Linked DNA regions of Homo sapiens. The protein of the gene in region 1 purifies or fractionates together with the protein of each later gene. This does not show direct contact. Each region holds a gene or a part of one and is shown on either strand. Other genes may lie near its edges. The genes, in order: SLC25A35, CPT2 and SLC12A6.

Evidence for each region.
Region 2: the proteins of SLC25A35 (region 1) and CPT2 purify together in Homo sapiens (affinity purification with mass spectrometry; one large-scale study listed by BioGRID and IntAct). This does not show direct contact.
Region 3: the proteins of SLC25A35 (region 1) and SLC12A6 purify together in Homo sapiens (affinity purification with mass spectrometry; one large-scale study listed by BioGRID and IntAct). This does not show direct contact.

The regions. Positions count from the first base shown.
Region 1 is NC_000017.11:8,289,488-8,292,476, reverse strand, and holds the end of SLC25A35 (solute carrier family 25 member 35), read left to right. Parts: intron 1-121; coding exon of another isoform or gene 122-205; exon of another isoform or gene 206-299; intron 300-991; coding exon 992-1,144; intron 1,145-1,500; coding exon 1,501-1,635; intron 1,636-1,798; coding exon 1,799-1,972; 3' UTR 1,973-2,416; downstream 2,417-2,989. Other genes in the region: RANGRF (ran guanine nucleotide release factor), read right to left, coding at 2,541-2,664, 2,889-2,974. UniProt on the Homo sapiens protein: Putative antiporter that exchanges dicarboxylates and sulfur oxoanions across the inner membrane of mitochondria.
Region 2 is NC_000001.11:53,210,324-53,213,972, reverse strand, and holds part of CPT2 (carnitine O-palmitoyltransferase 2, mitochondrial isoform 1 precursor), read right to left. Parts: coding exon 2,654-3,649; intron 710-2,653; coding exon 378-709; 3' UTR 1-377. UniProt on the Homo sapiens protein: Involved in the intramitochondrial synthesis of acylcarnitines from accumulated acyl-CoA metabolites.
Region 3 is NC_000015.10:34,334,873-34,339,309, forward strand, and holds the start of SLC12A6 (solute carrier family 12 member 6), read right to left. Parts: upstream 2,910-4,437; 5' UTR 2,460-2,909; intron 2,145-2,459; exon of another isoform or gene 1,881-2,144; 5' UTR 1,809-1,880; coding exon 1,538-1,808; intron 1-1,537.

The DNA.
Region 1 (2,989 bases):
TTCCCCTAGCTTTCTGCCTGCACCCAACAGATCCAATCCCAGCCACTGCTCTGCTCAACCCATCGGTTCTGTCCCATTTTGCCCCTGGAGTCTACCCAGACCCTCTTTACTCTTTTTTTAGATGGAGTCTCGCTCTGTTGCCCAGGCTGAAGTGCATTGGCACGATCTCGGCTCACTGCAACCTCCGCTTCCCGGGTTCAAGTGATTCTCCTGCCTCAGCCTCCCGAGTAGCTTGGGACTACAGGCGTGCACCACCACACCCAGCTAAATTTTTTTTGTTTTGTTTTGTTTTGTTGAGACAGAGTCTTGCTCTGTTGCCCAGGCTGGAGTGCAGTGGCGCAGTCTTGGCTCACTGCAACCTCCACCTCCCGGGTTCAAGTGATTCTCCTGCTGCAACCTCTTGAGTAGCTGGGATTACAGCCATGCGCCACCACGTCCAGCTAATTTTTGTAATTTTAGTAGAGATGGGGTTTCACCATGTTGGTCAGGCTGGTCTCGAACTCCTGAACTTGTGATCCGCCCGCCTCGGCCTCCCAAAGTGCTGGGATTACAGGCATGAGCCACTGCACCCGGCAATTTTTGTATTTTTAATAGAGATGGGGTTTCACCATGTTGGCCAAGCTGGTCTCAAACTCCTGACCTCAGGTGATCCACCCGCCTGGGCCTCCCAAAGTGCTAGGATTACAGGCGTGAGCCACCGTGCCTGATGCCTCTTTCCAATATGTACTCCAGTTCCTCTAATTTTCTGCCCCTGTTTCTCCTGACCAGTGAATGGCCTCACTTGCATACATCCCGCCCCAGTTCTTGGGTGCCCAGGGAAGGAACAATGGGGTGGCTAGACAACCAAGGGCCCACATTCTGGCTCTAAGCCCACATTGAACTGGTTGTCTGGACAAGAGATTCCTATTAAGGACCCATCCTTGGCAGTGTTAGGATGGCAGCCCCTGATGCTGGGCTGTCTGAACCCCACCCCCGGTCTTCCCCACACTAGGGCATGTTTCAGGCGCTAACCGAGATTGGCCAGAAACATGGTCTGGTGGGGTTATGGCGTGGGGCTCTGGGCGGCCTGCCCCGAGTTATCGTCGGTTCCTCCACCCAGCTGTGCACCTTCTCATCCACCAAGGACCTCCTGAGCCAGTGGGAGGTACTGCCTGGGAAATGGGTGGGTCTGTTTCGGGAAGGGGGGAAGGGGAGGGCAAGCTGCACTAGGCCCTGGAGGGGATGGTGCCCAACATTCACAGGTGAGGGAGTGGCAGGAGGGCTTGGAGGTCAACTCTTTAGACCCTTCCCACAGTTCTCTTGTCACTTCCTCCCAGAAGGGGTACCTGAGCCTTCAGGGTACCCTGGCCTTCCTCCTTCTCACTGTTTTTGCACTGTTATAACTGGTGCAGTGGAAGCTCCCCCAGTTACCAGCATCTGTGTCCCCAGGGCAGGGACTGTCCTGTCCTTGGGGTGTAATAGTTGGCTGGTTGACAACGCTCTTCCTCTCTACCCCCTTAGATCTTTCCTCCCCAGAGCTGGAAGTTGGCGCTGGTGGCTGCCATGATGAGTGGCATTGCAGTTGTCTTGGCCATGGCACCCTTTGATGTGGCCTGCACAAGGCTCTACAACCAGCCCACAGATGCACAGGGCAAGGTAAGGAAGTGCTCTGGGATGCAGGCGGGAAGCAGGGGATGGGGAAGGCAGATTGCGGGTGCAGGTGGGATAGCCTGAAATGCAGCCTGTAGAGGTGCTGCCCCTGGTGGGCTCTGACAAACTCCTTCTCTGTGCTCTCCCTCCCTCTCTGACACACTCTCAGGGCCTCATGTACCGGGGGATACTGGACGCTCTGCTGCAGACAGCTCGGACCGAGGGCATTTTTGGCATGTACAAGGGTATAGGTGCCTCCTACTTCCGCCTCGGCCCCCACACCATCCTCTCCCTCTTCTTCTGGGACCAGCTGCGCTCCCTCTACTACACAGACACTAAATAACAGCCGCTTTCCCAGTCTCCACCAAATGAGCACTCCTTGGCCACTTGTGCCTCCACCACTATGTCCTGGTGACTACTGATTAGGTGACCTTTCATCCATCCATGGGGGACAGCCAACCCCACTCCCCATCTGTTCTCAGGGTTGAATCACTACAAGAGATGAGTTTCCCTTCTTTCCTTGGGTGTTGCTTTAAACCTTCCCTACCCATTCCCTGGGTAACTCACACCCCTCTCTCAGGGCTGAACGAGTCATCCCAAAGTGTATTTCCTCCCACTCACCACTGCCACCCTTGAGTCCCTCCTGCTCCCATGCACAGTTTTAAACTCCTCCCTCCAAAACCAAAGGGAATCGAGAGACCCAATTCCCAGGCGTCTGGGACCCAGGTGTCCTGTTAGATTCAAAGGCACAGAGATTATATTGATTATAAAGCAAGTTTATTCTGAAGAGGGATTGTCTTATGTTTACGCACAGGGAAGAAATAAGAGGAAACCCTCTTTTCAACCTCTTTTCCCCCTCACAGAACCGAGTCCCCAAGTTCTCAGCAACATCATGCAGTGCTTCAGCGCCTTTACTGGGGACCAAAGATGTTAGGATCGTGAAGGGTCAGACTGGTCACCAGCTGTTCAAAGTCACCCAGGCTCCAGGGTGCAGGTGACAGATTTTCGGGGCCAAGAGATGACCTGTTGTCAGGGCTTGGGGTGGGGGAACAGATGGAGACAGAACATCATCCAGGCCTGAGGTTTGGAAATTGCCAATTCCTGTTCCCCAGAGGACCTGGGTATCAGTTACCCCAAACCTCTGGCCCACTCCTGCTTCCTTGGAGGATCCCACCAGTGAGTCTCCCTGTTCTGTCCCTCCCAGCCCGATTCTCCTGGGAACCCAGTCATGAGATACCCGCCCGTTCCTTCCTCCTTACGGGGGCTGATTGAAGGTAAGCAAGAGATCAGTCTGGTACTGGGGCAGCCTCAGCAAGGCCTGATGAAGTGTCACGTCCTTTGCTACCTAAGGGGATCAGAG
Region 2 (3,649 bases), on another chromosome or scaffold:
CACCCACTGGCTACACAGGCCCCAGTTTTTTTTTCTTTTTTGTTTTTTTGAGACAGTCTCGCTCTGTCGCCCAGGCCGGAGTGCAGTGGTGTGATCTCAGCTCACTGCAACCTCCACCTCCTGGGTTCAAGCAATTCTGCTTCAACCTCCCAAGTAGCTGGGATTATAGGCACATGCCACCACACCCAGCTAATTTTTGTATTTTTAGTAGAGACAAGGTTTCACCATGTTGGCCAGGTTGGTCTCAAACTCCTGACCTCAAGTGATCCACCCGCCTCAGCCTCTCAAAATGCTGGGATTACAGGCATGAGCCACCATGCCCGGCCTCCCAGTTTTCATGATGAGGAAGTGATGGTAGCTTTTCATCTGCCCAGAAGTTAACTTTTGATGGATTTGCCTTCTAAGGCATCAAACATGTCTTCTAAGGCCTTCTCCACACATTGGAGAAACTCCCGGGCATTGCGGCCTGGGTAGGAAGAGACATTGCAGCCTATCCAGTTGTCATGAACAGCATACCCAACACCAAAGCCATCAGAGACCACAGGGGCAAAGCCCCCAAGGTTCACTGCTGGGCTGCTCAGTGTGCTCGTGGACAGGACATTGTGGTTTATCTGCCCGTATGCAGGGTCCAGGTAGAGCTCAGGCAAGATGATCCCTTTGGCTGCTGCCAGATGCCGCAGAGCAAACAAGTGTCGGTCAAAGCCCTGGCCTGTGAGAAACAAAATGGAAAACCAGAGTCTCAGGATGGAAAAGGACCTCAGGAAAACCTCCCAACTCACCACATGGTAGGAATACCCCTCACAGCATCCTTGAGAGTGGGGGAAGGCTCTACCTCTATGCACACCACCAACTGACTAACCTTCAGAGCAGCTCAAGCTAGATTATTTTAAATTATTTAGGAAATATATTATGTCATGTTACATTTAAAAATAGCTGTCAACAGCTGAGCTAAAAATGAGCCTAAAAGGAAAGCATAATTTTAAAGATGTGAAATCAGTTTAGTCAAAGAGTCAAGACAGTACAGGAAGACAGCTATGGACTCAAAAACTACAATAAAACTAAAAGTCTGATTCAAGTGTAAAAGAGAAGATTGAGTCAGTGGAACAAAATGGAAAGTCTGTTTGACCAGGGTTCGAATCTCAGTCTTACTACTAACTTGCTGTGTAACGGGGCCAGTGGCTTGGTTTTCTCCCTATAAAATGGAGGAAGAGAAGATTAGAATGTCTTGGAGGTCCCTTTCACTTCCAGCACTTCATAGCAACATGAAAGGACAACTATGACCCTCCAGGTCCTTTCCAGGTCTTGAATTTTATCAAAAAAAGGTAATGACGGATGACAATTGAGAAGAGCTTCTGAGATAACCTGTTTACAGAGAGCAGACACATTACAACTGAGGTGAAGCTAGTGGGGCCGTAAGTTTAGAAATCCTAAATTTTCAAAAGTGAGTCTGATAACCAATCAGTAATAGAAAAAGGTTGGGTGCAGTGGTGCATGCCTATAATCCTAGTGCTTTGGGAGGCCAAGGCAGGAGGATTGCTTGAGCCCAGGAGTTTGAGACCACCTTGGGCAATACAGTGGGACCTCATCTCTACAAAAAATTTTAAAAATTAGGCCCGGCATGGTGGCTTACGCCTATAATCCCAGCACTTTGGGAGGGTGAGGCGGGTAGATCATGAGGTCAGGAGTTTGAGACCAACCTGGCCAACATAGTGAAACCCCGTCTCTATTGAAAATATAAAAATTAGCTGGGCATGGTGGCATAAGCCTGTAGTCCCAACTACTCAGGAGGCTGAGGCAGGAGAATCGCTTGAACCCAGGAGGCAGAGGTTGCAGTGAGCTGAGATTGTGCCACTGCACTCCAGCCTGGGCAACAGAGCAAGAGTCCATCTCAAAAAAAAAAAAAAATTAAAATATCAGCTGGGCATGGTGGTGCATGCCTATAGTCCCAGCTATTTGGGAGGCTGAGGCAGGAGGATTGTTTGAGCCAAGGAAGTTGAGGTTGCAGTGAGCCATGATTGCACCACTGTACTCCAGCCTGGGTGACAGAATGAGACCGTGTCTCCAAAAAAAAAAAGGCCAGGTGCGGTGGCTCACGCCTGTATTCCTAGAACTTTGGGAGGCTGAGAGGGATGGATCACCTGAGGTCAGGAGTTCAAGACCAGCCTGGCCAAAATGGCAAAACCCCTTCTTTACTAAAAATGCAAAAACTAGCCAGGTGTAGTGGCGGGTGCCTATTATCCCAGCTACTTGGGAGGCAGAGGCAGGAGAATCACTTGAACCTGGGGGTGGAGGTTGCAGTGAGCCGAGATCACGCCATTGCACTCCAGCCTGGACGGAGGGAAACTCTTGTCTCCAAAAAAAAAAAAAAAAAAGAAAGAAAAAAGAATTAATGCGTCACAGCTGAAAGTGACCTTAAATGAGGACAAAGACACATGCATTTCCCCACCCCTGCTTAGGAGGCAAGAACATTCTGATCCCTAGTGGCTAGTGTGGCTGTTCAGACTGCTAGGGTAGAAAAGAAAAATTTGGGGAGTTGGCGATGGATTAAACCTAGTGAACGGGTAGAAATCAGATTTGGAGTAGAATGATTTAGGCTTGCTTACCCAAGCACTGAGGACAAGACCCAAGGGCATGCTCCCCACCCCTGCCTCACCCATTGCTGCTTCTTTGGTCAGCTGGCCATGGTACTTGGAGCACTCAACCATCATCTGCTGAAGCTCACCAGCACTGTGCCTGGAGGGCTCCCTGACAAAGGCCTCAGAGCACCTCTTTGTATAGACGGAGGCCGGGCGGATGGTCTCAGTGCGGCCGTGCTTGAATGCGGCAGTGCTACAGGACTCGTAGGTGGCCACTGTCTGCCCGTACTGCCGCAGGAAGGCCATCTGGAATGCCAGCTGGGCAACTGCGTCAGGGCTCAGCTTTTGCTTCTTCAGGAATTCTTTGCCTCCTCTCTGAAACTGGACGCAGTCAATAGTGAGGGTTTTCATGGTGGCATCAAACTTTTCCTTAGCAGCTGTGATGCCAGTCTTTAAGGCATCAGTCAGCTCGAAGTTGAGTTTCTGCACCGTGACAGTAGAGTCAGTGGTAGCTGGCTGGCTCTGTGGAGTGACGGCAGGGGTCTGAGTGCTGTCTTTAAATACTTCATTAAAAAATCTGAGCACTGCCACACCATCACCCCAAGAGTGCTCAAAGTGGACGGCAGTAGAGCCATCCTTGGCGATAATGAGGTTAAAGGATTTATCAAACCAGCGGTTTGTGCCATCCCCATGCAGCATATTGTGGGACAAGTGGACAAGGTCCTTAATGGGGAAGTCATCTAGGCAGAGACAGAACACTGCCGAGTCCACTTTCCTCAGGCTCTCCTCATTGCCACTACTCATCAGCTTCTGCCTGAGCTCTGCCCAGATGTCTCGGTTCTCACTGGTCAGGTATGCCAGGGGAAACTCGGGGGCGGGGCTGCTGTCTGAGAGAATGTACTTCAGATGTGCCTGGATTTCCGAGGGGCTCACAATGTTCCCATCTTGATCCAGGACATCAAAGATATAAAAATTTCCTTTCCTTAGGACCAGGAGGTGTCTGGCCTTGTCATCAGTGAAGAGTTCATCCCGACTGGGTTTGGGTAAACGAGTTGAGTTGAAAAGCCGAAAAT
Region 3 (4,437 bases), on another chromosome or scaffold:
GCAGACTGGACAAGGAACCTGTTCTGCTGGTCTAACACATTACTAAGTCCACTTTTCCAAAGAATAAAAATACAATTCTGTAACATGTAAGTCACAAGTCTAACAAACTAAACTATAAATTACCTAATGATAATTACAATATTAAGAAATTAACACTGGTATAGTCTTTACCTGGAATTTTTACAACCTAAATACAGCATGATGGATAAAAACTAAAACCACAATTTGGAATTAATTTGGAGGAAGAGGAAATGATAAATTTGTATTCCATACTGTAATTTTAATCCAGTGTATGACACACTGTAAAATTTGTCAAAAAGTTGAAAACAGTAAAGTCTGAGAACCAACCTATGTCTCCATAAAAGAAAAAATGATTAGTCAAGGATGAGTGAATTCTAGGACTGTAAACTTTACCAAATCTACCTTGTCTCCAGATACTAAAAACACAAACAGAATTAGGGAACTAAAATCATTCTGGTTTCCTGAACCCTTTAGGTTAAAAGGAACAATATTTCCTGACACCGGAAAATGGTGAGTAAGCCTTGCTTTCACAAGTCAGTGGGTGAGGCTATGGTTTTCAAACTTGGGTGGAATATTATTTTAAGAGTCTTTAAGGGAAATTTTTATCATTAAAAGATTACATTAGTTACAACACAGCATAAAACTAAATATATAAAGCAGTACAGGTCTCAAACTTTTAAATTTCAGAGTCCAAAAAATGTTATGATCTCCCCATTTTCTCTCTTCTCTCTCTTCCATCACCTCTTCCCAGTACCTCAAATAAAACCAAGCCAGCTGACACACACAAACTGGTTTAGGAAGCTAAAGGTCTGTAGCAGTCAACATGAGCCAGGAGTGGCTTGTGTGCTACCTGCTAACTCTAATCATCAGACTTTCCATCTAAAGCTCAGAGAGAATAAATTACATGGGAATCAGGCCCTAAAAGCCTTTTCAGAAGTCTTCCATTTGACAGAATAGCACATTAGGTCTACCCACCATCACCCTGAGTGGGCTTAGCTACTTGTGTCAAGGTCTCCATAAAAATACAGATTTCAAAAAAGAATTTTGCAATACACATTCGAAGTCTTGGAGGAAAGCTGCTAAGATACGACCAGTAACTACTCCATGAAACCAGTCTTAAAGCAGACTGAAATAGCCAATGATGGCTACAGAACACATATCCAACTCACTAAATTTTAAAATTTAGGATTCTGTGTGCTGAAAACGATTACATTCTTTGATATTCACTTTTAACCAAAATACCCATTTCATTTCTAAGAAGACAAAAATGAGGAAGTTAAAATATACATTTGCCTTCCTTCTTGTCATACACCTTCCCACATACCAAATTACTACTGCAAAGAGCCACTATGCTATTATTCCAAAGAGTTCCTAAGCATCTCACAAAGAGATGCCTTGGTTCCTGATGACTATTATAATCATAATTATATGATTATGATCTTCCAGATCCATAGATGGTCATCTTGGATAAAGAACCCAGTAATGAAAGTATGCTGCGGTCTGTGTTTCTACTTACCCTCGATGACATCCTGGGGGTGAGAAGTCCGGTCACTGGGTGGATCCAGTGCAACAGTTGCCAGCGAAGTGGTGGCCCCAGACATCTCACTCATAGGCTCACTCCGGCTTGTTTCAGGCACGCTTTCCCGGGAGCTAAATCTTACTCGGGAACTAGATCGAGAGCTGAGGTCCGGACTGGTGTCTGACAAACCTGGAATGTCATCGATCTTTGTCGGTGTCACCATGAACCGAACTGAAGCCATCTTGGTGGTGGTTTCTGGAGGATGCATTTTGTTCTTTTTAAGAACAAAAAAAGTGGGGGGAACCTCGCAAAATCTTCCTCTTACGCTAGCTACTTTTGACTGCAATACAAAAGATAACTTGAAAAATAACACATTTCAATAACCTTGATTCACACCACACAAAAAGCCCCAACTAAGAATACTTCTACTCAGAATTCAAGCCGACTGTCCTAGAAAGTGCATCACCAATAGGTGAATATATTTTTTAAGAGAGAAAAAAACAAAAAACAAAAAGACAAAACAATGCCAATCTTGTGTGACTTCTTTCCTTCAGAATGAAGAGCTACCTAGCTAACCCCTCTGGTCCGGGGCTGAAGGCTCAGTGCCATGGTCTCAGGGCAGCAGATGAAGCCTCCCTCCCCTCAGCCCCCAGTTTCCTGTCGAGGTAGTCCTTTATCTGGTGAGTGTCCCACGGTTCTAGTTGGGCGAAGTGCGTGCAGGCAAACCTTTATCAGGCGACTATAGCGTGGATCAGATTGCTAAAAGGTGTACACCCGGCCACCTGTTGTGTATCAGGTGAATACCCCACAGGTCTGGCTGGGGGGAGGTGTATGCAAAGCCACCCGGTGTTTTTGATGTCGACAATCCACTTGGGTCTGGTGGGAAAGGTGCACATGCATAACGGGAAAAATAACCCACACTACTGAGAGAAGGGTGAGCAGAGGAGGATGCAGGGGCAGAGCGGATTCCTGTCTCCGAGAGGTCGGTGGGGGTGGCGCGCCCGCTCTTCTCCTAGCAGAAAGGTCCTCGGGGTCTGGGAGGAGGTTAGCGGATCAAGACACCTCGGACTGCAGCTCAGAGTCGTGGCAAGTCGTAGCTAGTCCACTGAGCCACGGTCCGCTCGCTAGGTTTCTCCTGCGTGTGACAGGACGAGCCACCCCCTTTGCCGGAGGCGCGTTCTCCCCTACCCCCGCCCCGGCGCAGGTCACCCCCTCGTCGTTCTTCCTCAGGGTCCCAGTAGAGGAGGAGACGGCCACGCAGGCTGGCCTGACTGGGCAGCAGGGTGAGGGAGAAGGAGGTCGCAGGTGCAGTATCCCGGCGCCAGCTGATGCGGGTGCGCGCGCAGCTGTTGTTTACTAGCCGGTAACTGTTTCAGAGCCGCGGCGCGCGCAGGGTTCGCGCTGCCGGGGCTGGCGCCCCCTCCCCGGCCCGACGCCAGAGCAGCAGTTACGTGACCTGGCCTCCCCCAGCCCCGGGCCCGACGGGGTGCGCCCGCGCCGCCGCAGCCCTTCCCTTCCCTCCCCGCTTGTTCCTCATTCGAGGTGAACCTTGCGAAGAGAAGCCCGGGGGTGCAGTGAGAGGGCGGAACCGTCCCGCGGGCGCCCGAAAGCCCCGCCCAGCCGCCGCAGCCCGCGGTGACCGAGTGCAGCGCGCCTGCGCTCGCCGCGGGACACGGCAGGCGGGGCGGGGCCGAATACGAGTGGCCAGGGGCACGACGGGAGCTGTAGTCCAGGGCACGGCCCGACCCGCGTGAAGAGGGGAATAATCCTTTTCCTCGGTCCGGCTGTGCTGCACACTCACTCTGGAAGCATCCTAGAGGGCGGGCGCTGCTCCTCACCCTCAGAACCCGGGGAGCCATTTCTCTTTCATGAGTGTCTCTGAAAACATCATTCATGATTTCTTTAACCAGAAACACCGCTCCTATACCTGGGAATAACCCTCATTGTAATTTTTATGTAGAGGTCTACATACAAATAAACCACTTTTATGTAAAAAAAAAAAATTAAAACTATAAAGTAGGCCTGGCGCGGTGGTTCACGACTGTAATCCTAGCACTTTGGGAGGCTGAGGCGGGCGTGATCGATCACCTGAGCTCAGGAGTTCCAGACCAGCCTGGCCAGCATAGCGAAACCCCGTCTCTACCAAAAATTCAAAAATTAGCCGGGCGTGGTGGCGTGTGCCTGTAATCCCAGCTATTCCTTAGACTGAGGCAGGAGAATCGCTTGAGCTTGGGAGGCGGAGGTTGCAGTGAGCCGAGAACGCACCATTGCATTCCAGCCTGGGGGGACAAGAGCAAAACTCCGTCTCAAAGAAATAAATAAATAAAAATAAAACTATAAAGTACCTTAAACACATTTGTCCTACTTTAATTTTTTGTTGTTGTTCTTGTCCTTTTAATAAATGCTATGTCCACTTTCTAGTCAGACTGAAAGTTCCACTAAATAATACGTTTTTTTATACCTGGAGAAGACGTTGATGTATTTTCTCAAATCCATTCCATGTTTTCACCACTACATTTGTCGCTAGAATATTTTTTCTTAGTGTTTATTTAATGTATAAATGGTGGTGTTCGATAAATTCTGACTCACCAATGTTTTGTTTGAAAAGCTATTTCCTATAGCTGTGATCAAGACCTCTAAATTTAACAATCACCTGGGCCCAGAAACTGGCCCCCGGTTTTGCCTGGGGTCTTGGCTCCTCACAAGTGGTTATGTTTAAGCAGCACTCCTAGCAATGGGAACTGTATTCCCGGAAGTTCTCTTTTATCAAATGACACACAAAGTCCAAATCCTTTCAAGGATTAAAGGATCAAAAAGGTTAAAAAGATCCTGGTAACAAAATGAGAAATCCTAATGTAAAGTGTAAACCTCCTAAAGTTTGACTCTTTATAAAGTCT